3 separate regions of the Homo sapiens genome follow, and regions 2 and 3 are each linked to region 1. Evidence: fine-mapped expression QTL. A gene starts in region 1. Each other region holds a variant in brackets. All regions are shown on one strand. Distances are from middle to middle. Region 1 holds the start of FCHO1 (FCH and mu domain containing endocytic adaptor 1). Region 2 overlaps FCHO1 (FCH and mu domain containing endocytic adaptor 1). Region 3 overlaps UNC13A (unc-13 homolog A).

Evidence for each region. PIP is the estimated chance that this variant, and not a neighbour inherited with it, causes the effect.
Region 2: its variant is fine-mapped to the expression of FCHO1 in whole blood (Lepik 2017, PIP 0.93).
Region 3: its variant is fine-mapped to the expression of FCHO1 in whole blood (TOPMed, PIP above 0.99).

The regions. Positions count from the first base shown.
Region 1 is chr19:17,747,538-17,755,712 of GRCh38, forward strand. It overlaps FCHO1 (FCH and mu domain containing endocytic adaptor 1), which reads left to right and starts at 3,940. Exons shown (of 29, transcript NM_015122.3): 1 at 3,940-4,040; 2 at 6,780-6,824; 3 at 7,055-7,144; 4 at 7,581-7,654. The coding sequence starts at 7,628. FCHO1-AS1 (FCHO1 antisense RNA 1) reads right to left here and starts at 3,860. Exons shown (of 5, transcript XR_007067152.1): 1 at 3,679-3,860; 2 at 3,121-3,213; 3 at 1,746-1,826. RefSeq lists a silencer at 1-412 and enhancers at 6,098-6,618, 6,619-7,138.
Region 2 is chr19:17,772,073-17,780,247 of GRCh38, forward strand. FCHO1 (FCH and mu domain containing endocytic adaptor 1) reads left to right here. Exons shown (of 29, transcript NM_015122.3): 10 at 385-483; 11 at 573-669; 12 at 2,167-2,211; 13 at 2,322-2,406; 14 at 2,984-3,008; 15 at 3,384-3,441; 16 at 3,911-4,089; 17 at 4,175-4,199; 18 at 4,563-4,614; 19 at 6,065-6,156; 20 at 6,537-6,812. Among named protein-coding and RNA genes, the nearest start is that of B3GNT3, 19 kb to the right of the region's middle. RefSeq lists an enhancer at 4,355-4,694. The variant G/A (reference allele first, on the strand shown) is at 4,682.
Region 3 is chr19:17,620,791-17,628,965 of GRCh38, forward strand. It overlaps UNC13A (unc-13 homolog A), which reads right to left. Exons shown (of 44, transcript NM_001080421.3): 32 at 7,073-7,150; 33 at 6,719-6,807; 34 at 5,843-5,995; 35 at 4,039-4,162; 36 at 2,752-2,757; 37 at 1,042-1,080. Among named protein-coding and RNA genes, the nearest start is that of UNC13A, 63 kb to the right of the region's middle. The variant C/T (reference allele first, on the strand shown) is at 5,040.

The DNA.
Region 1 (8,175 bases):
GGAACATAAAAAGGAGCCTAGTCTTCGGCTGGACCAATCAGCGCGCTGAGCTGGCGGAGCTGGGCGCCTAAATGGCCCAATGGGGGGCCGCGCGGGATCAGAGCCCGCCCTGCCTCCTGGCGCCGTCGCGGGGGTGGGGACTTTCTAGGCCACGCCCCGGGGGCGGAGCCCGCCGGCAGCCGCGCCGCAGCCGCGGAGGGAGGGGCGGGGCGGGCTCCGGTGTCAGCGACCAAGCCGCAGGTGGCGGCGAGCGCGGGGCTCGGCCCGAGCTCAGGAGGTGAGTGTTGCCCCCCGGAACCCCCTGGGATACCCTGGCCCGCGCAGCCTCCCACGCGCACCGTGCCCTGCAGCCCCGGCGGCTGCGGAGGGCAAAGGCGCGGCGGGACGCGAGGGATGGAGAGCAGGGGGTTGGGGCTACGCGGTGGGCGCCCCGGCTTCCCCCTCCAAGTGGTAATTGGGGGTCCGCAGGCGAAAATGGGGACCGCTCCCCAAATCCCCCGTCTCCTGGCCTAGAACCGAGCGTGCACGGGGGCGGCGACGACGCGAGACCCCTCCCCAAATTCTTTTATTCTAAGCCTAGGTCTGGGTTCTGGGGCTGCAAAGATGGGGGCGCCGCTCCCCTTCCAGCCTGGAACCCTGGGCGGTGGCTGAGATGGGGACCACCCGCAGATTCCCTCTTCCCAGCTCCGGCCTGCAGACCACCGGGGACCGAGACGAGGGACCCCTTCCCTTTTCCTCCACTGTGAACCCCTATCCAGGCCTGGTGGCTGGAGGAGCTGGGGTGTCACCTGGCCCCTCCTCTAATCTGCCCCATCCCAGTCCTCCACCTTAAGGATGGGGTGGGGGGCGTTTCACTGGCATCTTCTGTGGGGACCCCAAGGTTGGAATTTTGGGGAGGAGGTCACTGTGGGGTCCCCTGCCTGGCACGGTTTATCCAGGCCAGGCCTTGAAGGGCCTGGAGCCTGGACTTGGGGGGGGGGTCCCTCTTTTACTGAGGGGCGGGGTGTACAGCTAGCATCTGTTTCTGGGGATTAAAATAAATCGAGGTAAATTAGGATCTTGCCAGAGGCTGGCTGTGAGTGGGGTGCGGAGGAGGCTTGGGGGGTGGGGGACCCCTCCATCTGCCTTGGATCCCCCGAGTCACCTGCCCCAGCTGCACTGGGGACCAGGAGGCAGTGTCGAATGGACCTGCTTCACTGGTGACCTTGGGCAGGTGACAGCACCTTTCTGAACCTCGGTTTCCTCTTTTGAAAATTGAGGTTGGGAGCTTCGGACCCTGCATTTTACAGATTCTGAACTCACCCAGCCCACATTTTGTCCAATGGTGATTCACTCTTTTGCTTAACATGTGGGTGGTTTGGGGTCAAGACAGCATTGGGTTTGGAGACCCTCCCACAGTGCCTTGCTATCCTCTCAGCCTCAGTTTACTGCACTGCAAAATGGGTTGATGATGACACTCTGATATTGGGGCTGAGGGCATGGGGACAGGGAGTAAAACATAGGACCAAGCTGCAATGGCTGGGATGGGGCATCGCCACCCTGGTCTCACCATTGGGGCCACTTAGGGCACACCCTGACCCACATACCATCACCCACGCCAGGGGTGAACCTGTTCTCGGGCGAGGTCCTGGGCAGGAGGGGGTGGGAGTTGCCAGGCCAGCTCATTCCCTGTCCCTTGGAGCGCCCTCCCAGTGGTGGGCATGGGGCTGGGAGTCTGACACCCCCAGGTTTGAATTTGCCTCTACCTGTGTGTGTGTTTTTCCCTTGGTGCCTTTGTTTGTTCTTCTGTGAAATGGGCTGAATTCCTCTGGGAAGATGGGAGGAGTCTGTGGGAGGAGGAAGCTCTGTAAATACAGACATGATTATTATAATATTAATGACAGTATTAGTGCTCTTTAAATCGGGTCACAGCTGACCAGGAGGAGGGAGGGGAAGGGGGAGTCTATCAAAGGCATTGCCTGAGGAGACTCCAGCACCTGGGAAAGTTGGGTACACAGTAGGCATTCAATAGATGTTTGCCAAATGAAGTGAGGAAGAGGGAGGGGACCCATGGGGAGGACAGAAAATTTCTGAGAATCCCTGGCTCAGATTCCCACTTGGTGGCCCGAGTCACTGTGTGACCTGGGGCACGTGTCTCAGTTTCCCCATCGTGGTGCTGGTTGAGATAAGATACTGCCTTGAGGTGTGGTGACGAGAATCAAGCCAGATTGTCTGTGATCGCAGCCCAGGTGGCGAGGCCAAGAGGGGAGACATGACATAGTGGGTCATTGAAACAGCATGGTACCTGCTTGAACCAAGTGACTGGTCCGTGGGAAGGATGAGAAAACCCTTGCTACTGGCCCTACTGTACATACACTGGGGTCCAAGAGAGAGGGAAATGTGAGATCCTGTTTCCCAGGATCCTGGAAGCCAGATCGTGGAAGGTCAGGAGTGGCCCAAGGTCATCAGGCAAGACGTCAGCGGCTCCGGACACCCAGCCAGGCACCACTCGATTCCCAGGATGGGAGCTCGGGTCTTGCCTTTGTTGCTGATGTGGTTCCTGCTTTGTTTTATCTGTTCTGGGGCTGCTCACATGTCTCAGCCCCAGGTTTGCAAGACTTGGTGCCGGGAAGGCAGGATGGGGACCTCTGAGTCAGCTGGCAATGTGCTGTGTAACCTTGGGCAAGTCTCCGGCCATCTCTGGGCTTTGTGCTGGTACTGTACAGGCTGGGAGACTTGGGTTCTAGCAGGGCTGACTTCTCCATCAGACCCAAAATGCCCAGTGTCTCAGGCTCACAGTGCTTTTAGGGGTCCCTAGGTTGATGTTTTCACTTCTTTTAAAATCCAAAGGGAAAAAAATGAACTCTTGGGTTGAAGGAAACATTTTTGTGTATAATATTAATATATTTGTCTTTATGTCAATGTAGTTGTAAAATACAGTTTTGTTTTGTTTTGTTTTTGAGACAGAGTCTCTCTCTGTCACCCAGGCTGGAGTGCAGTGGCTCGATCTCCGCTCACTGCAACCTCCATCTCCTGGGTTCAAGCGATTCTCCTGCCTCAGCCTCCCGAGTAGCTGGGATTACAGGCATATGCCACCCCACCCAGCTAACTTTTGTATTTTTAGTAGAGACGGGGTTTTACCATGTTGCCCAGGCTGTTCTCGCACTCCTGGGCTCAAGCAATCCACCTGCCTCGGCCTCCCAAAGTGCTGGGATTCCAGGCATCAGCCACCACCTAAAATATAATTTTAAATTTCTTTTGTAGTGAAGGAAAGCGCTCATGAATGCAAAAATGTCTTCCCCTTTCTTTTCTTTTTTTTTTTTTTTTGAGATGGAGTCTCGCTCTGTCGCCAGGCTGGAGTGCAGTGGCGCAATCTCGGCTCACTGCAACCTCTGGCTCACTGCAACCTCCACCTCCCGGGTTCAAGTGATTCTCCTGCCTCAGCCTCCTGAGTAGCTGGGACTACAGGCATGGGCCACCACGCCCAGCTAATTTTTGTATTTTTAGTAGAGACGGGGTTTCACCGTGTTGGCCAGGATAGTGTCAACCTCTTGACCTCGTGATCCACCCACCTTGGCCTCTCAAAGTGCTGGGATTACAGGCGTGAGCCACCGCGCCTGGCCATGTCTTCCCCTTTCTGAGCGCATTTCCCTCTCTGAGCCTCAGTTTGCCCAGTCTGTGAAGTGGGTATCGGCCTACCTCAGGATGGCAAGATGTTGAATGCCTGGGCCAGGGTTGGTGCTCAGTTATTTCCCAATTGCCATGATTAATATTTGTTCGGTAAGAACAGCTCCAGGTTCAGGCCGGGGGGCTCCAGGTTCAAGCGCCTCTTGTTTACTCACCCATGGCCTGTGTGGTTCCAGGGAGGTCCCATGGGTGCTGATCGGGCGGGGGAGGAAAGGTGGCGGTTGGATGGTAGGCGGGGCGGGGTGAGCTTCCTGTCCCCCCCCCAACCCATGCACACAAGCCTCCAACTTGGTGCTGACGGAAGTGGCCTCGTGGCTGTCTCCTGGCGCCTGCCCCGTCAGACAGGGGCCCCATCCCACTCGCTACCCTGTCCGGTGAGTTTGAGCCCTGGCCAGTAGATACCCATCATCTCGCCTTGGCCCCCCTCAGGAACAGAGGGGAGGCCCCCCTGCCCGGAGCCTGGGTTTCAGGAGAAGTAGCAGGTGTCACTTCCTGGGCTGGCCAAAGCCTGCATGGGGCCACCCGTTGCCCTGCCCCCCGTCCCCCATTCCAGCTGTGAGTGGTGGTTTGGGTTAGGGGGGCGGCAAGGGGAGCTTGGAAACCCAGAGAGCCACGCGTGATGGTTTCAAACAGGAGGTCATTGGCAGACAGACCAGGGGCAAAATCACAGTCAGCCGGGACCAATGATTGATCTCTCTGTGCCTCGGTTTCCTTCATAAAGTTGGGGTTGCCTCTGAGGGCATGGCATGAAGATTGGATGAGCAGATGCGTGTGAATAGTTGGGTACAGGGTCGCACACATACTGGTGCTCCATGTGTATCTGTCTGCCAGAGGTGGGGTGAGGCAATCTAATTGAAACTGTGAAAACAGTAGTGAGATTCTTGGTTTCTGGGGAACTTGGGCTCCTTGGTTCCTGGGATCTTCTAGAACAATGTTGGCCATCCAATACAGCAGCCATCAGCCCCATGTAGCTACTGAGCCTTGGAAGAGAGGCTGGCACAGCTGAGGAGCTGGGCATATAATTGTATGTATGTATGTATGTATGTATGTATGTATTTAATTATTATTTTTTTAAGACAGAATCTCACTCTTTCAACCAGGTTGGAGTGCAGTGGGGCAATCTTGGCTCACTACAACCTCCGCCTCCCAGGTTCAAGTGATTCTCCTGCCTCATCCTCCCAAGTAGCTGGGACTACAGGTGTGTGCCACCACGCCCTGCTGATTTTTATATTTTTTGGTAGAGATGGGGTTTCACCATGTTGGCCAGGCAGGTCTCGAACTCCTGACCTCAAGTGATCCACCCACCTCGGCCTCCCAAAGTGCTGGGATTACAGGCGTGAGCCACTGCGCCCAGCCAATTGTATTTAATTTTACTTGGTTTAACATTAATACAAAAATTAATACAAAAATTAAGGCCAGGGGTTGTGGCTCATGGCTGTAATCCCAGCACTTTGGGGGTCCCAGGCAGGAGGATGGCTTGAGCTCAGGAGTTCGAGACTGGCCTGGGCCACACTAGTGAGACCTAGTCTCTACAAAAAAAAAAAAAAAAATTTATTTTTAATTAGTTAGACATGTAGTCCCAGCTACTCGGGTGGCTGAGATGGGAGGATCACTTGAGCCTGGGAAGTCGAGGCTGCCATGAGCTGTGATCATGCCACTGCACACTCCAGCCTGGGTGACAGAGCAAGAACCTGTCTCCAGAAAAAATAAAAAAATAAAAAAAACTTAATACAAAAATTATTCAGGCGTGAGCCTGTAGTCTCAGCTACTCGGGAGGCTACTATTCAAGGCTCCCTTGAGCCTGGGAGGTGGAGGCTGCAGTGAGCTATGATCGCACCACTGCACTCCAGCCTGGGCAACAGAGCGAGACCCTGTCTCCAAAAAAAAAAAAAATTAAGTCACCACATGGGGCTAGTGGTTCCCATGCCAGTCAGCACAGCTCTAAGAGATTTGGAGATGCTTAGGGTCCTGGTCATGGACAGAAGCTAAGAAATGATATGGAAATTTAGGGCTTTTCCCCTAGGGATGTCAGTGTAGCATGCTCACCACCCTACCCCTGCCACCAAACTAGGTTTCCTAAGGGGGTGTGGTGGGGACTGAAGTTTTTCAGGGGCCCTGTCATTAACCAGTGCAGGGTTGGGAATGTTTGTTGAAACAAATAATTCCTTGCCCAGTGAACTCCTATTCATGCTTTAAAACCCCAACTCCCATGAGCCCTCCTTTAGTCCAGGTTCTTTTGGACCTTGTCCCTCCATCTGGCCCAGCCCTGACCATGCAGGACGGTGATATCTGTGTCCAGCTCTGTCTCTCTAGACTGGGGACTCCTGCAGGGCCAGGCCCGAGGCTGAATCAACTCAGGGACCCTGACATTGTTCTAGTCTGGGTGAGCAAGTAGGAGGTCTTGGGTGACTCACAGAAGTCCCGGGATTGGAGGCTCAATGATAATGGGTCCAATTAAACTAACTAACTTTCTTTCTTTTTGAGACAGGGTCTTACTCTGTCGCCCAGGCTGGAGTGCAGTGGCGCCATCTCAGCTCACTGCAACCTCCGCCTCCCAGGTTCAAGCGATTCTCCTGTCTCAGCCTCCCAAGTAGCTGGGATTACAGGTGCCCGCCACCACACCTGGCTAATTTTTGTATTTTTAATAGAGACAGGGTTTCACCACTTTGGCCAGGCTGGTCTCAAACTCCTGACCTCAAGTGATCTGCCCGCCTCGGTCCCCCAAAGTGCTGGGATTACAGGCGTGAGCCACCACTTCTAGCCTAAACTAACTTTCAAGATTAGGTAAACTGAGGCACAGAGAGGGGCAGCCTTGCCCAAGGTCTTGCTCAGTCCTTTCCTGGGGAGGCCCCGGGAGCTTCCCCATCCTGTGGTCACGGGTCCCTGTCACTCCTGCCACTGTTCCTACGAGGCTCCCAGCTGCTACCGAGCTGCCTGTGGGGTCATGAATTATGCATGAGGCCTGCAGGCTCCAGTGACAAGCCTGGCCTCTAGAACATGCCAAGGACACTGCCTGTCCGTCCCCTGCCGGGCGGCCTGACCCAGCCTCTTGTGCAGAGACACCTGGGGCTCCCCGGCAAGATCCCTTCTAAGCATTCCTTCTTATTTTGCAGATGGGGAAACTGAGGCACGGAGCTGGACAGTGACTCAGACACCAGGTGAACACTGGCTTTTGAGGGCAGGGTTGGGACTCGTGGGGGCAGCAATGCCAGCTGGGTCATCACAGTGAGGAGTGAGCTCTGACTCCCAGGAGGGTACATAAGGTGAGGACTGTCCTAGAGGAATCAGAAGATCCCAGGGGACCCTCAGGGATACTTCAGGGACCCCAACCCCCATGTGGCTGATCACAGCCCCTGCATCTATTTCTCTTCAAACCCTTTTCCTGCAGGAGCTGCCTGGAGTGGAGCTGAGAGCTCAGGTCTGGGCTCAGCCAGTCCAGAGTGCAAATCTACTGTCCCTTCCTAGCTGTGTGATCTTGGCAAGTGACTTCCCCTCTGGGGGAGGGGAGGGCTCAGTTTTCCCATCTGTGAAGTGGATCAGAGCTTTCCTGTCAAGGTTAGGGGTCATCCAGCACTGCTCCTACCCACTGCTATGAACTCTTATACATGCCTAAAAACCCCACATTCCATGCCCCCTCCTCCAATCTAGACTCCCTCAGCTCTTGTCCCTCCACCTAGTCCAGTTCTGACTCTGTGGAATTGGGGGCATCTGTGTCTTGTTCTGTCCCCCTCTACTGGAGCTACTTGGGACCAGCACTGGGGCTGAATTATCTCAGGGGTCCTGGCATGCTCTTAGCATTGGAGCTTTCAGTTCCTCCTTCATCCTTTCTCTCCTTCCTCTACAGGGAGGGACTTTCCCCCCACCAAGCCCACACTGGCAATGACTCTGTAGCTCAAACTTGCCTCTCTCTTCAGACAGGCACTGGACGGGGCCTGCAGGGGTCTCCACAGAGACCATCAGGATGTCGTATTTTGGGGAGCATTTTTGGGTAAGACCCACTCTTATTTAGGCGGGGGATGCTGGCAGGGCTGTGGGGACTTTTATGGAGATGGGAGGACTGGGTGAGTTGCGGTTACAGCCTTGGACAGGTAGAGGATCTGCAAGGGATGGAAGTTAAAGTGGGAAGAGTCAGGCTGGGTTTGAATCCACACCCACCCCAGACCTCACAGGCCTTACAACCTTGGGCAAGTCATAGCTTGTGTCATAGGGAGACCAAGGGCCAGAGTGGGAACGTCTAGGCAACCTGAAGTTGCCCCATGAAAAAGTGCAGAGTCAGTGCTCAAACCCAGGGCCAAACTGAACTTCCAGGACCCAGGGTCATTCCAGCCAGGGAACTTCCACCCCCTTCCCATCCTGGAGAATTGGGGGGTTTTCCTGACCTGGCGTCTCATGGCCTGTGCACCCCTCCACTGTCCAGGCTGGAGATCACCTCCTGTAGCCCAAGGGCTGCTGAGTGAGACAGAGTTGTTTTTATTCATTCATTTCCTCTCTCCCTGCCACTGTGACCTC
Region 2 (8,175 bases), 25 kb after region 1:
AGTGCTGGGATTACAGGCATGATACACCACAGCTGACCACTATTTCTGCTTCTTAAGTCTGTTTTTCTCTCTGGGGACATCACTCCCACACAGACATCCCCTTGTGTGTGTGTGTGTGTGCATGTGTGTGCAAGCATGCACATGTGTGCATCAAACTGGGCACCAGCAACCCCCACTTACATCCCATCAGCACATTGGCTCAGGAATGGAAGTGCCTTTTCCTGTAGAGTCAATGAAAGTCCTAGGGCAGACTCTCATTGGCCCTTCCCCAAATCAATCACTGAGCCAAGGGCTTAGGGTATTCTGATTGGTCAGGCTGAGTCATATGGCCACTTCTTCTTGGCCCTGACCTCCTTTCCACCTGCCTCTGCCCTCCTGCTTCAGCGCTTCCAAGCCATGGAGGAGACACACCTGAGGCACATGAAGGCACTGCTGGGCTCATATGCTCACTCGGTGGAGGACACGCACGTGCAGATTGGGCAGGTGAGTTGGGCAGGTGTGAGGAATGAGGCTGGGGTCACTGCTGGGCAAAGGGGCCTTGACCAGTTACACACCCCGCCCACCCGGCACAGGTGCATGAGGAATTTAAGCAGAACATCGAGAACGTCAGCGTGGAGATGCTACTCAGGAAGTTTGCAGAGAGTAAGGGCACAGGCCGGGAGAAGCCTGGTGAGTCAGGGCAGCCATTGGGGGTCGGGCTTCGGGGCCACAGCTGCAGACAGGCATGTGCCACCATGCCCAGCTAATTTTTTTTTTATTTTTTTATTTTTAATAGAGACGAGGTTTCACCATGTTGGCCAGGCTGGTCTCGAACTCTTGACCTCAGGTGATCTGCCTGCCTCGGCCTCCCAAAGTGCTGGGATTACAGGCGTGAGCCACTGCACATGGCCAGGCCTTGGTTTCTTCATGGGAAAAATGGGCTGCTGACAAGTCCAGCTCTCCAGCCTGATCTTATGTGTAAATGTCTTTGAACCAGATCCCAGAGGAGCCTTGAATGCCAGGCTTGGCTGATCAGACTTCACCCCCAGGGCCTAAGGGAGCCATTGAGGGTTGTTGAGCAAAAGAACAATTTGGGAATGCGCAGATGCAGGACTGGGAAGGAGTTAAGAGCAAAAGTTTTAGAGTGAGACGTGGGTTTGAGTCTTTTCTTCATCGCTTGCTGTGTGACCTAGGACCTGTGCTTTGACTTCTCTGAGCCTCAGTTTCCTCATCTGTAAAGTGAGGATGTAATAATGTTGCAACATTCAGTGATTTCATGCAGGTAAAGGGCAAAGGGTGTGCCAGGCACACAGTAGGCACTCACTAAATGCTGGTATACAGTTACGTCCTCAAGTCTTGTTAACTAGCAAAACCTGTTCTTTCTCCCTCCTGTCGCTCTGGCTCAGGCCTGGCTCAGGTCTCCCCTCCCTGCATGGGGCCCCACTCTTGCCCTTCACAGGCCCCAGATCTGTTTTGTCCTCCTCCTGCTCACACACCTTCCATGGCTCCCCATTGTTCTTGGGAGAGAGTTCCCACTCCTTATCCTGTCACTCAAAGCCCAGCCCACTGCACAGACGCATGGTCCATTCCCCGACCCAACCCAAGTTCCAGCCACAAATGCTGGAAGTATGTAGAAGTAGCTCATGTCACCCCCTGCGGTGGCACTGCCCTGCTGGAACCAGACCAGCCCCTTGGTCCATCCCACTTCTGATGATGTGGGGCTGGTTCTTGTCCGGGAACCTGATGGACCTTGAGTTCAGATCCAGGTGCCATTTTGTGGCCAAAAGTGTACTACCCTTTCCAAGCGCAGTCTCCCCACCCTCAATTTAGTTTCTTTCTCTCTCTCTCTCTCTTTTTTTTTTTTTTTTAATTTTTTTGAGGCAGAGTCTTGCTCTGTCACCCAGGCTGGAGTGCAGTGGTGCAGTCTCGGCTCACTGCAACCTCCGCCTCCTGGGTTCAAGCGATTCTCCTGCCTCAGCCTCCCCAGTAGCTGGGATTACAGGCGCCTGCCACCATGTCCGGCTTTTTTGTAATTTTAGCAGAGACAGGGTTTCACCATGGTGGCCAGGCTGGTCTTGAACTCCTGACCTCAGGTGATCCGCCCGCCTTAGCCTCCCAAAGTGCTGGGATTACAGGCATGGGCCACCGTGCCCAGCCCCTCAATTGAGTTTCCGTCTCCTGTCTCAGGACCTCTGGACTTCGAGGCATACAGTGCGGCTGCCCTGCAGGAAGGCAAGTACGTCTGGGCCTGGATGCCCAGGCTGGACCATGGGGGTGAGGGAGGCTGATCTGAATGTGAAAGGAGGCTCACAGTGCTCAGGTGCCCCCCAATCTATCCTCAGCGATGAAACGTTTGCGGGGAGCCAAGGCCTTTCGCCTTCCAGGACTAAGCCGGCGGGAGCGGGAGCCAGAGCCACCTGCAGCTGTGTGAGGAAGCACCCCTGCCCGGTCTGGCCCAGGCTAGACCGAGATCCCCTCCCCTGCCCAGGCTATCCCAGAAGTCCCCTCCTAGGATAGCCCAGGAGTATCCATATTCCAGGCTGGACCAGGATTCCCTCTACCTGAGCTAGACCAGGAGTACCTCTGCCCCCGGCTAGCTCAATATTACCGCTGCCCAAGCTAGTCCAGAATTCTTCCTTTTGCTAGGTTAGGCCAGGAATTGCCTGTCCCAGAGTAACGTAGCATCTTCCCTGCCCAAGCTGGCCCAGGATTGTTCTGTTTGCCAAGGCTAGCCCCGACTTTCCCTATCTTCACAAGGCAGCCCTTCAAATGAGTTCCAGGATTCCTTCCCTCCCAGGCTGTTTGAGAACACTCTCTACTCAGCTAACTTCAGATTCAACCCCCTCCCCAAGCAAGCCCCATGGTCCCACCGCCTCTAGGGCTAGCTCAGGGCAGTATCACAGTCTGGGAGCTGCCCCAGCTTCCATGTCCAGTGTTGGGGGCTGACAGGGGGCACCAGATGGGCTGCGGAAGCTGACACCAACATCTCTTCCTCCATCCCCAGAGATTTCCTGGAGCCCGATTCAGGGGTGAGTGATGTGGGAGGGGTCAGGCTGGGCTACAAGTGGAAGGAGTTTGATCCCACTCTTGGCTCCTAGAGTCCCGATCCCTACTGGAAACTAAAGAGCCGAGATTGAGGGGCGGGCTGGAGCCTGGGGGCTGGGTTCATATCCCACCTCAGCTGCAAAGTCCCATGGACTACGTGGGTGTGAATAATGTCCCTGCCGAAGCTCAGTTTGTCCCAGGAACCTGCCCACACACCCAGGGAAGACAGTCGTTGCCATCAGGGTTGGTTTTGAGGTCTGAGTCAAGGCCTGGGGGCAGGGCGGGGGGCGGTTGGCAGGGTGAGATGGAAGGTTCGATAGTGGGGCGCCTGACTCACTGCTGCCCCCTGACTCCCCTAGACATGTCCAGAGGTGGATGAAGAAGGTTTCACTGTCCGGCCTGATGTGACCCAGAACAATATCCTTCTGGCACCCCCTGGGGGCAGTTGTTGGCACAGCAAGGACAAAATTCTCCGTAATAACCAGTCCACCTTCAGCAGTCCTCTCTGTGTACATCCTGGAGAGAGTCTCCTTTGTGGATGAAGCCAACCTAAATGTAAACACCCACTCTATGGGGTCAGCACTGGGCAAGAGGGAGAGAGAAAAGGAGATCTAGCAGGGCTTCCTGGAGGAGGGGGCACCAGTGTTGGGGTTTTGCAGCCGAATAGGAGTTTGCCAGTTAGTTCTGGGCATGCTTGTGCAAAGGCTTCTCGGGGGGGGTGGGAGTGCTGGTGGGACATGGTGTCAGGACTGAAGGTGGCGCGTGGTGAGCGATGGGATTGGGCAGGACCTCGAAGGGTTTGAGCAGGGAGGGACGAGGCTGGATTGGAGAGCTGACTGGGGGAAAGCTTGTGTTGGGATTGGCTTGGACCTTGACTGCAGCCCACGCACGGCCGAGCCCTCCCGTTTCTCGTCCAGCGACTCCGACTTCGACGATGAAGAGCCCCGCAAGTTCTATGTGCACATCAAGCCTGCCCCGGCCCGGGCTCCAGCCTGCAGCCCCGAGGCAGCAGCGGCACAGCTCAGGGCCACCGCGGGCAGCCTCATCCTTCCTCCTGGCCCAGGGGTGAGGCGTGGGAGGGGTGCCCTGGGTGTTGCTAGAGAGGCTGGCTGGATGCATTCGTGTGTGATGTTGCCCACTTTGTCCACAGGGCACCATGAAACGCCATTCTTCACGTGAGTAGCCTTTGGTCTTCAGAGTGGGGAGGATCCTAAGGAAGGGAGGCTATGGGTTTGGGCTTGAATCATAACTCCGTTTTGTAACTTTGGGCAGGCTGCTTAACCACACTGACCTTCAGTCTCCTTTTCTGTAAAATGAGGTCATTATGAAATTAAGTGAGAGCTGAAAGGGGTAGCTGGGGCCAGGAGAAGCTAGCATCTGGAGACAGGCTCGCTTAGGCTTGAATCCATGTCTGCCTGATTTGCTGATCACCTTGGGCAACTGGCTGGACACCCCCGAGCCTCGGTCCCTTGGTCTGTGGAGTGGGGAGCATTGCAGGCAGGGTGACAAGAAGGCTGAAGGAGGTGCATCTCTTGTAGGGGACGCTGCTGGGAAACCCCAGAGACCTCGGTCTGCCCCCAGAACCAGCAGGTGGGTTCCACACGAGTGGGCAGGTGGGGGCTGTCCCCACCTCCTCCCTCCACCTCCCCATGTCTCC[G/A]CCTGGTGTTCTCTTGTCCCGGCTGGGAGTTGACGTCATGCTGGGGTTTTTTTGTTTTTGTTTTTGTTTTGAGACAGAGTCTCACTCTGTCACCCAGGCTGGAGTGCGATTTCAGCTCACTGCAACCTCCACCTCCTGAGTTCAAGCGATTTTCATGCCTCAGCCTCCTAAGTAGCTGAGATTACAGGCACCCACCACCACGCCCAGCTAACTTTTGTATTTTTAGTAGAGACAGGGTTTCACCATGTTGGCCCGGCTGGTCTCGAACTCCTGACCTCAAGTGATCTGCCCACCTCGGCTTGCCAAAGTGCTGGGATTACAGGCATGAGCCCTTGTGCCTGGCCCATGCTGGCTTTTGAGGGACCATTTAGTCATTCATTTGATGAACATTTATTGAGTGCCTGCTGTGTACCTGTGCTGTTCTAGGGTCTGGGTTCTGAGACAGGTCTCCCTTCTCAGAGTCACATTCTAGTGACTCCAGATTTTAAGAATAGCAAATAGGGCCAGGCGTGGCGGCTCACGCCTGTAATTCCAGCACTTTGGGAGGCCAAGGCAGGCGGATCACCTGAGGTCGAGAGTTCGAGACCAGCCTGACCAACATAAAGAAACCCCATCTCTACTAAAAATACAGCATTAGCCAGGCATGGTGGCACATGCCTGTAATCCCAGCTATTCGAGAGGGTGAGGCAGGAGAATCGCTTGAACCTGGGAGGCGGAGCTTGCAGTAAGCCACTGTTGTGCCATTGCATTCCAGCCTGGGCAGCAAGAGGAAACTCCGTCTCAAAAAAAAAAAAAAAAAAAAAAAAAAAGCAAATAAGTTAGAGCATATTCGATACTTCTAAGTGCTACGAAGAAACTAAAGCAGATGACGCGAAGACAGGAGGAGGTGACTTCCCTTGAGGTGGGGTTGGGAACCTCCCTGAGGGGGTGACTTGGAGCTAAGCCCCAAAGAGGAGCTAGGAGGTGACTGTGAAGAGAGCTGGGGAAATGGAACTCCAGACTGGGAACAGGCTGCACACAGTGGCTCACACCTGCAATCCCAGCACTGGCCAAAGCAGCCAGATCACTTGAGGTCAGGAGTTTGGGATCAGGCTGGCCAGCATGGTAAAACCCCGTCTCTGCTAAAAATACAAAAATTAGCCGGGCATGGTGGCAGGTGCCTGTAATCCCAGCTACTCTGGAGGCTGAGGCAGGAGAATCGCTTGAACGCAGGAAGCGGAGGTTGCAGCAAGCTGAGATCGTGCCACTGCACTGCAGCCTGGCCGACAGAGCAAGACTCCGTCTCAAAAAAAAAAAAGACTGGGAACAGCATGTGCAAAGGCCCCAGGGTGGGATGAGGCTTGGGAAAAATAGAAGCAGCCCTCTTGGCCTCACCCTCTCTAGCTGTGCAGAGAGATTGCAGTCAGAGGAGCAGGTGTCCAAGAACCTCTTTGGGCCGCCCCTGGAGTCAGCCTTTGACCACGAAGATTTTACAGGTGATGGGGATAAGGGATTGGAGGGCATGGGTGTGGCCGGAGGGAGGTTGGGTGGGGCCATTGCAGAGTTAGGCCAATGAGGTCCCCTGGAAGCCAGGCTGGAGGGAGGACTAGTCCGTGTAGGGGTGGGCGGGGCCAGAGTGCGCGTGGGAGGGGCCATAGATAGGGTGGGGCCTTGGCCAGTGGGCGGTGACTGAGTGGATGGGCCGGACATTTGTGGAGAGGGAAGTCACCAGAAGGTGTAGCCTTGGGGGCGTGCACAAGGACTTTGAATGGGGGCCCCCCTGACCTTCCCTCGACGTGGCCGTGGCCTGCAGGAGGATGGGCAGGGACTCTGAGTGGGCGAGGGTCGGAGCTGACCGCCCGCTTCCCTCCCCAAGGCTCTAGCAGCCTGGGCTTCACCTCCAGCCCCTCCCCTTTCTCCTCCTCGTCGCCCGAAAACGTGGAGGATTCCGGCCTGGACTCTCCGTCCCACGCGGCACCTGGCCCCTCCCCAGATTCCTGGGTCCCCCGCCCAGGCACCCCGCAGAGCCCGCCCAGCTGTAGGGCGCCACCCCCAGAGGCCAGGGGTATCCGGGCACCGCCTCTGCCAGACTCGCCGCAGCCCCTCGCCTCGTCTCCAGGCCCCTGGGGGCTGGAGGCCTTGGCCGGAGGAGGTGAGTCCAGCGGGCCTGGGCCTGAGAGTTGCTGGAACCCTGGGCGGGGGATTGAGCGCCTGCTTTGGGCAGGGCCTGATCAGGCTGCTGGAGACACAGCCAGGACCAGGCAGGCAGAACCTCCCACCGTTGCAGGGACAACAATGAGATGGACATTTAGCAAGGCAGGCGGTAGCGGGTGCCAGGTGGGGGCCCTCCCTGAGGAAGGGACATCTGAGCTGAGATTTGAGGGAGGTGAGGACAGAACCACGTGGACATGAGGGGAAAGGCGTGCTGGGCAGAGGGCACAGCCCCTGCAAAGGTCCTGGGGCAGGAGCGCGCTAGGCCTGTCTGAAGAACAGCAAGGAGGTCTGCCTGCTGGAACGGGGTGATCACGGAAGGAGGAAGAAGAGAAGGCAGGGACCAGGAAGGGCCTGATGGGCCCAGGGAGGGCTTGTGAATGTTACCCTGAGTAACGCTGAGGGCCATGAGCAGGGGAGGGGCGGGACCTGACTCAGGGGTCACAGGCTCCCTCTGGCAGCTTCGGGAGTGAGGGCAGAAACCAGAGACTGGGGAGGCAACCAGGGAGGCAAGTAGGCGATGGGGGTAAGGGTGGCAGTGGGAGAAGCAGGTGGAAAGGTCGCTGCAGGGGAGAGTTCGGAGGAGTAAGGATGGGGAAGGAGCGGAGTCAAGGGAGGGAGGAGGATGGGGAAGGAGCGGAGTCAAGGGAAGGAGGAGGATGGGGAAGGAGCGGAGTCAAGGGAGGGAGGAGGATGGGGAAGGGGCGGAGTCAAGGGAGGGAGGAGGATGGGGAAGGGACAGTCAAGGGAGGGAGGAGGATGGGGAAGGGGCGGAGACAAGGGAGGGAGGAGGATGGGGAAGGGGTGGAGTCAGGGAGGGGTGGGGGACGTCGAGGCTGTGCCTTTAGGTGTCAGGTGCACAGTGGACCCTGAGTGTGGGGAAGGTCAGGTCAGAGCACCCCCTCCTTGAAGACGTCATCAAAACAGGAGGAGCAGCCGCCCAGGGAGAGCAGAGGAGAGGACAGCCGGGGAGCCCAGAGGGGTTGGAGACAGGAGGACAGCAGGAGATGGGGGGAGAGCGGCGGGATGGGCTCCTGGGGGCTGTCTGAGGAGAATGGGAAGCCCCCGAGTCAGAGGGACTGTGGGCTGTGACCACCCGAGGTCCCCAGTAGTGTCAACAAGGGCTCCTGGCACCCTCCATAGGAAAGGGCCAGGCTGGAGCCCGTTCAAGGGAGAGCTGAGTGGGTGGAGACCACAGAGTGGGGGCAGAAGAAGCTCTTTTTTTTTTTTTTTTTTTTGAGAGGGAGTTTTGCTCTTGTTGCCCGGGCTGGAGTGCAGTGGTGTGATCTTGGCTCACTGCAACC
Region 3 (8,175 bases), 130 kb before region 1:
TGCCCCCTCAAAGCACAGTCTCACTTCCCAGCCCAGGAGCTCCTCCCCAGGTCCTGGGTCTAATGGTGGGCCCCCTCCCCAGCTAGCACCTCCTCTGGTCCCCTAGCAGGGGTTTAGAGGTCAGACTCCTTGACTGCCAGCACACTCTCGGGGTACCCAGGAGGCTGGAAGCAGCCTCATCCCACAGTCAGCCTGCCCCAGGATGGGGCACCTGGGGAGGTGGGGAGATGAGACAGGGCTAGGAATCTGTCTCCTCCTCCATTCCCTAAGGGGCTGCCCCTATATCCCAGCACCCAAGTCTACAAAAAACATATTAACATATACTGTAAGTTCACTCAGTGCTGAAGAACCCATACACTAAACTACATACGTGCACTCCTAAACACTTGCAGGCACGTACACAATTATATCACACACAAAAACCCACACACCCTTCTTGACCCCACACGGATTCACATCCACATATAGGGTGCCTGGGACACTGAATGTGCCCCGCAAAGGGCTGGCAGAGAGAGTACGGAACCCCTGTGACCCACATTCACAAAGCTAAGACTCCATTTGTAGACACAAATGTACAACGATATCTTCTGCACAAGTGTACAGCAAGACAGCTGCTTGCGTGTTGCTGTAGCTCCCATCTCCTTAACAACAAACACCCATTAGCACAGCAACAAAAAGAAATCTACGTAAAAAACAACACGTCTCAGTCCAGGGTGGTGATCTAGCGTGTAGGCTCCTCAAGAAGGCACAGAATTTCAGCTGAGCCCAGGGCTCAGATGAGCCCTGTGGGTATTGCTGTGGGAGGATGGGAGCTGTTTGTGCACACACATTAGTTCACATGTGGACACACACACTGCACGTTCTGTCCCTGGAGAATCACTTCATCTCTGACTTCTGGTTTTGCAGGACTTGGTTAGGAGAGCTATCTCCTACCCACGACCCCCAGCTGCCCTTCCTGCCCAGGTGCACAGACGCACACACATGCACACACATGCCCAGACACTGGAGCTCAGGGCCTCAGTGAGACGAGGCCCTCATTACCTTTTCTAATCCCTTGCCATGTTTTCTCAAGAGGTTCCCCTGCAGAGATAATGTCACAGGGTGATCAACCTGGCAAGTCGTGCAGGGTGGGAAGCTGGGATGCTCACAGGAATATTCATGGGGATGGGGGAATCCACACTGCACAGGGTACTGGTGACTGGGTTGCATGGGGATAGTGTGTTTGTGTGTGTGTCTGTGTGTGTGCACACACGTGCATGCGCTTTAGTGACTCACTCTTAAATGGTGTGAGAGGCAGAGACAGGAAAGAGAGAGAAAGATACAGATACAGAGCTAAAGAAAGTCAGAAAGAAGGGAAAAAAGCCACTGCCAAAATATAATCCATTTACATTTACTGTACACATGAGACTCTTGGTTCTTGGGTTAACAGGAAAGCAAATGGGCTGCATATTCAGACAGATCTGAATTTGAATCCTGATTCTGGCATATATTTACTATATGACCTTGAACAAGTGACTCCTCTCTGAGCCTCAGCTTTCCTCATCTGCAAAATGGGGATAATAATATCCACCTCACTCAAAGGGTTATCATGAAGGTGAGCTGAAACAGGAGCTATGAGAAGGCCTGGCATATGGGGAGTCATTAAATGCGAATTCCTTTATTCCCCCTGCCTACAAATGCATTGCCTGTGGTTGGGTATGCTGCCACCAAGTGGTTATAGCCAAAGACCCAGGCTGCAGCTACCAGGAAGTAAGAGCCCTTGTAAACTTTTAACAAAGTGAAATCTTGTAACAGCCTTGTCTTGCCCACAAAGGGAAAATCTGAAGTTGTTTTGTCTCTGCTCTTACACATGTCTGCATATCACCACCACCACCACCACCACCACCACCACCATTAGCTCTGCCTCTGGGCCGGTCACTGAGAGTGCAGTGGCGCGATCTCGGCTCACTGCAACCTCTGCTTCCTGGGTTCAGGCAATACTGAGATGAGTATTTTAATGCATCATGCCATTTGGTTCTTAGAACTACCCTCAGGGAGGTGATGCAATGAGCCCCATTTTCCAGACAAGGAAACAGAGGCTGGGAGGTCAAGTGACTTCCCAAGGTCACAGAGAGAGACAGTGGCTGGGCTAGGATTTGACCCCAAGTCTACCTGACATCAAAGCCATGACAAAAGTCTCCCACTTGGGCACCTGGGTGTATGTCTGGGATTGGTGTGTGTCGGTGTGGATGGCGGGAGTTGGGTAGACAGGGTGGTGGGGTACCAAGGAATGGTCTGGAGCATGGAATTTCAGAGGAATCAGAAGTAGAGACCCTCATGGTGAGGACCTGCATTCTGGGAAGCTGCTGACAGTTCAGAGCCCAAAGAGGAGGTCAGAGGAATCCTGGGGTTGATCCTCTTTCTAGCTTCAGGGCGTCTGGTGACATCTGGGCACGGGAGCAAGGTTGGATTCTACCCTTAGACGGCAGGTCCGCTGCGAAGGAGGAGCTGGGCTTGGGGTTTGGGAGTGGGTAGTGGGGCTCCTCTGGACTTCAGTGGGACAGGGAGGGTGGGCGTGGTCTCCCTCCCTCCCAGCCCCGCCCCCTCCCCATGCCCCGCCCCAGACAGACACAGGCACATCTAGGCGGGAGGGAGGATGGTGGGTGAGGAGGGGGCGCTGGGTGGGTGGGGAGAGGGGTGCAGCGACGCGGTGGGCCGAGTCCAGACACAGAGAGGACGGACAGACAGACGGACAGACGGGACTCTACTTACGATCATCTGTCATCCGTGATGGGGGCGGGGCGGTGGGGGAGGGGGGAATAAGGTACCATGAGTCTCCCGGGAAGGCCAGGGAGGGGGCAGAGATGGCAGCACGGAGGGGCAAGACCCCTGCCCCAGCCCAGCCCAGAAGAGGTGGAAGGATGGGAAGTCCGAGCCTCCCCGACCATCGTCGCCCATCTATGGCCCCCGCTCACCCTCCCCAAGCCTCCGTGGTCCACCTGGGAAAGACCTCCCCACTCCCTAATGTGCCCACAGCCCACATGCCATTGCTGTCCTCAGGTTCTTGATGCCTCCCGGAGGGACCCACGCCCAGCTACATCCCTCTACAGATGTTTGGGTCCCCTTGGTCCCTAGAGATTATGGCCTCTGGTCTATCGGTCCTGGTCTCTGGATGGCCAATGATCTCTGCTTGACCTCTCTGACCTTGGATGCCCTCCATGACCTCTGGCTGACTTCCAGGAGCCCCTTGGTCTATTGATCTCTGATGTCTGAAGTCCATGGTGTCTCCCCTCTTTGGCTTTTGAATGAGCCCCAAAGCCCTTAGAAAAACCCATTGATGTCTATGCCTTCTCTTTTTTTTTTTTGTTTTTTTGAGAAAGGGTCTCGTTCTGTTGCCCAGGCTGGAGTGTGCAGTGGCGCCATCTCAGCTCACTGCAGCCTCTACCTCTTAGGTTCAAACAGTTTTCGTGCCTCAGTTTCCCAAGAAGCCAGGATCACAGGATCACACCCAGCTAATTTTTGTATTTTTAGTAGAGACGAGATTTCACCATGTTGCCCAGGCTGGTCTCGAACTCCTGACCTCAAGCAATCTGCCCGCCTCGAGCCTCCCAAAGTGCTGGGATTGCAGGCGTGAGCCACGGTGCCTGGCCAATGTCTATGCCTTCCGTGGCTCAAGGATAACCTTGATCCCAAAATTGACCTGTTTTCTAGATGACCTCTGACCTTTGAAAGCTATTTTGACCTACATGTGACCTCTATGACTTTAGTGGTCTCTTGACTCTACCTGATGTCTTTGACCCCAGAGAAAATACAATGGACTCTGAATGACCTCTTTAACTCTTCGATGATCTTTAACCCCTGTGTGAACTCTCTGACCTCTGAATGGCCCCCCACTGACCTCTGGTGGCTTCCATGACCCTTGAATGGCCCTTGAGCCTGGATGACCTCTCTGAGACCGGATGCCTTTGTTCTTACCCCCCAGCCTCTAGGCACCAAGTTTTCTGGGCTCTCGCCAGGGAGGTGGCCTAAATGTCCCCTCGGGCCCCCTGCAGGTCTCACCGTCTGGTCAGTGAGGGGCGGCAGGACGATGGTTTTCTCCATGGTGTTCATAACCAGCTTCCACAGCTCCTTCAGCACTCGCTTCAGCACAGTCTTCTCACAGATTTTGGCAAAGAGGGTCAGGCTGGGGACGAGGGGCAGGTCTGAGAGAGGGCCCAGCTCGCCCCCACCCACAGATCACCTTCCCTTAACAGGTGGGCAAGGCATTCCACAGATAGGAAAGAGGGCCCACAGCCTGTACAGGGACCCCTGGGTGGTTTGATGGGGCTATGATATCTGATGCATGAAGAGAAGAGTGAGTGGTGGTTGGACTAGTCAGCAGGGACCAGATGGGAAGGGGCCCCAATGTCTGGGAGGAAGGCTTGGGTTTTATCAGGATGGGGGTAGTGGGGAGCCATGGAGTGTTCAAGAGGGAGACACAGCCAGACTTTCATGTTTGAAAGAACAGTGTGGGGGATGAACCGAAACAGGAAGGATGGAGATCAGGGACTATGAGGGAGAAGGCCATGCCCAAGAGGAACAGGAGGGGAATGGTCAGAGGAGGGCAGACTTGAAAGGGAAAACAGCAAAGAGATTGTGGTTGGATGGATAGGGGTTGAAGGAGACAGGCAGTCCACCAAGATCCATCCACCAACTGATCCAGTCACCCACCAATCCATCCCTCCCCCAGTGGTCCTTAATTCTCTATTTCTTTTTCTATCCATCCATCCATCCATCTGTTCATCCATCCATCCTTCCATGCATCCTTCTACCCATCCATCCACTTATCCATTTATCTATCCATCCACCTGTCCATTCATCCATCTGTCCATCCATCTATGCATCAAAACATTTATTCATCCATCCAAATATTTCTCACCTATTAATCCATCCATCCATCGACCCACTCATCCACCCACCCCCCCATCTGTCCAACCATTTATGCATCAAAACATTTATTTATCCATCCAAATATTTATCCACCTATATCTATCCAGCATCCATCCATCTACCCACCCACC[C/T]ATCCAACCATCCATTCATCCATCCACCCATCTGTCCATCCATTTATGCATTAAAACATTTATTCAATGATCTAAATATCTATTGACCTATCCATCCATCCATTCATCCATCCATCCATCCAGCCAGCCAGACAGACATCTATGCATCAATCCATCTATACATCAAAACATTTATTCATTCATCCAAATATTTATCCACCTATCTATCCATCCATCTACCCACCCATCCATTTATTCATCCATCCACCCATCTGTCCATCCATTTATGCATCAAAACATTTATTCATCCATCCAAATATTTATCCACATATCCAACCATTTATCCATCCATCCATCCATCCATCCATCCATCCATCCATCCATCGTCCATCCAACCATCCATCAAGCCAGCCTGCCAGACATCCATCCATCTAAGCATCAATCCATCTATGCATCAAAACATTTATTAATCCATCCAAATATTTACCCAACTATCCACCCATCCATCTTTTTAAAACATCTATCCTCCCTCTATCCTTCTAAACATTTATCTTTTAATCCATGCGTCCACCCACCTACCCATCCCTCATGTCACCTATTCATCCACCATTCATTCATCCACACAAATATTTACTCACCAATCCTTCCAATTATTTACCCACCCAACTTTCCATCCCCTTCATGCCACCATCTACTCAGCCATCCAACTATCCAGTGACCACCCAGCAAACATTCCCTGCACACCCTCTCCAGCCAGTCCCTGGGTCTCTATGGCCCTGCCCCAGCCCCTCCCCGGCCAGCCCAGTCCACCTGGCCCAGCTCACTTGCTGTCCAGCAGGTCCATGATGGGCTGCAACACATTGTCCGCGTCCTGGGCCACGCTGCTGCAGGCACTGGCTGGCACATTGCCTGTGCCCTTAACCTGGCTAAGGATGTCACCCATCTGTTTGACACACTCTTCAATGTGCGGCTGGAAGCTGGGGACACAGAAGGGAAGGGCTCAGACCACAGGAAGGGCTGGATGAGGACACAGATGCTGATCTGTGGTCCTTGAGGTCATATCATTTGCATCACAGCACATAACCGAGCAAGAATGGAGAACAGGCCAGATGCGGTGGCTCACGCCTTTAATCCAAGCACTTTGGGAGGCCAAGGCGGGCGGATCACGAGGTCAAGAGATCGAGACCACCCTGGCCAACATGGTGAAACCCTGTCTCTACTAAAAATACAAAAATTAGCTGGGTGTGGTGGCATGCACCTGTAGTCCCAGCTACTTGAACCCAGGAAGTGGAGGGTGCAGTGAGCCGAGATCGCGCCACTGCACTCCAGCCTGGTGACAGAACGAGACTTCGTCTCAAAAAAAAAAAAAGAGTGGAAAATAGTAACTGCAGAACCAGGCAAAGGGATAAGACATTTGCCCGCATTGTTCATTTCATTCTCAAAATCCTACCCAGGTACTATTATTGTCATCACCCCAAATTTACAGAGCAATAAAAAAAAAAATAAGGCTCAGAGAAGTTAAGTGACTCACCCAAGGCCACACAGCTAGTAAGCAGTAAAGCCAAGATTTGAACTCAGCCTTGTCTAACTCTGAGCCTGCAATCTTCACCTCTACATCTGCTGAGCCTCCAGATGCCCCAGGCTTAGAGGGCTGAAGGCTGTTCCCTCCCCACTGCCCCCAGCCCTGGAGATGCTCCCACCTGGTAGCAAACACCCGGCTGAGCTCATCCAAGACGTTATTGAGTTTCACCTGAAGCTCCTTCAGGATGTCACTGGCTTCAGCATCCAGCTAAGGAGGGAGAAGGGACACCAGGCCAGGTTCAGTAAGTATCCACATGTACTGGGCATTTTCTCATCTGACCCAGGGAAAGGGATCCCAAGGGGCTGCAGGGGAAACTGAGGCACAGACCGTTATGCTGCAAGCCTGGGTTTAAGGCCATGGTTGAGCTGGAATTCATCCCCAGGCCTGGTGGCATATGAGCTCAGGGGCCTGCAGGGACACAGTGGTGGGGGTGCCCCATCCCTTCTCCAGCCCTGCCTCGGCCCTGCCTCACCTCCTTTCCTCCCATGGCTTCGAACATCTTCTCCAGCTGAACTCGTAGCTGTTGAGTGTTATTCATGAGAATGCAGGGCTGTGGGTGGGAACAGAGAGGGGAGTCAAGCCTCAGGACCTCTCCCCAGAGCCTCCCCTACCCACCGCCAGGGACCTTGGGATGGTTTCAGGGTCTGGGTCTGGAGGAAGCTGGGGTCCCATGGGGTCACCTGCAAATGGAAGGGAGCTTTTGTGCTCAGGTTCCTGGGCGTGTTGTTGGGGCGGGCATCTCTGGGGACTGGTGGGGGCAAGGAGGACTCAAGTAATCCCACGACCCCAGGCCTGGTGGGGGGTCCATGAGAGGGGCTGGGAACTCTGGGAGTAGCAGAGTTTCCTGCAAGAGCCCAAAGCTTTGCAGCTCACACCCTGAAGGCTTCATTTGCAACAGCCAGACAGTGACACACTGAAGGCGTGTGCCCTCACCCCGAGATATACACACGAGACCCCCCCCACAGATACACACACTCAGACATGCACAGCCAGACACAGCCATAGACACACACTCACACCACGCACATTCAACACCGCCATACCAAACCTGGTGAGACACACCCACCCAGACGTGCACAAACACACACACACACTCACACTATATGCAGTTAACTCAGCCAGACAAAACACGGTCACACACACCCAGACATGCACAGCTGGACACACACACAAGCATACACACACTCACACTATAACCAGTTAACACAGCTAGATAAAATATGAGACACACACCTAGATGTGTTGTATAGTTGAACACACATACTCACACATACATACACTCACACTATACCCGGTTAACACAGATGAAACATGGCTAGATACCCACACTCAGATATGTACAGACACACACAGATACACACATTCATGTTATACCCAGTTAACACAGCCAGACGAAACACAATCACACAGATACACACACTCATGTTATACCCAGTTAACACAACCAGACGAAACACAATCACACACGCACACTCAGACGTGCACAGTTGGACTCACACACACATTCATGCCATACCCTGTTAACAAAGCCAGACAAAACATGATCAGACACGCACACTCAGATGTGCACAGACT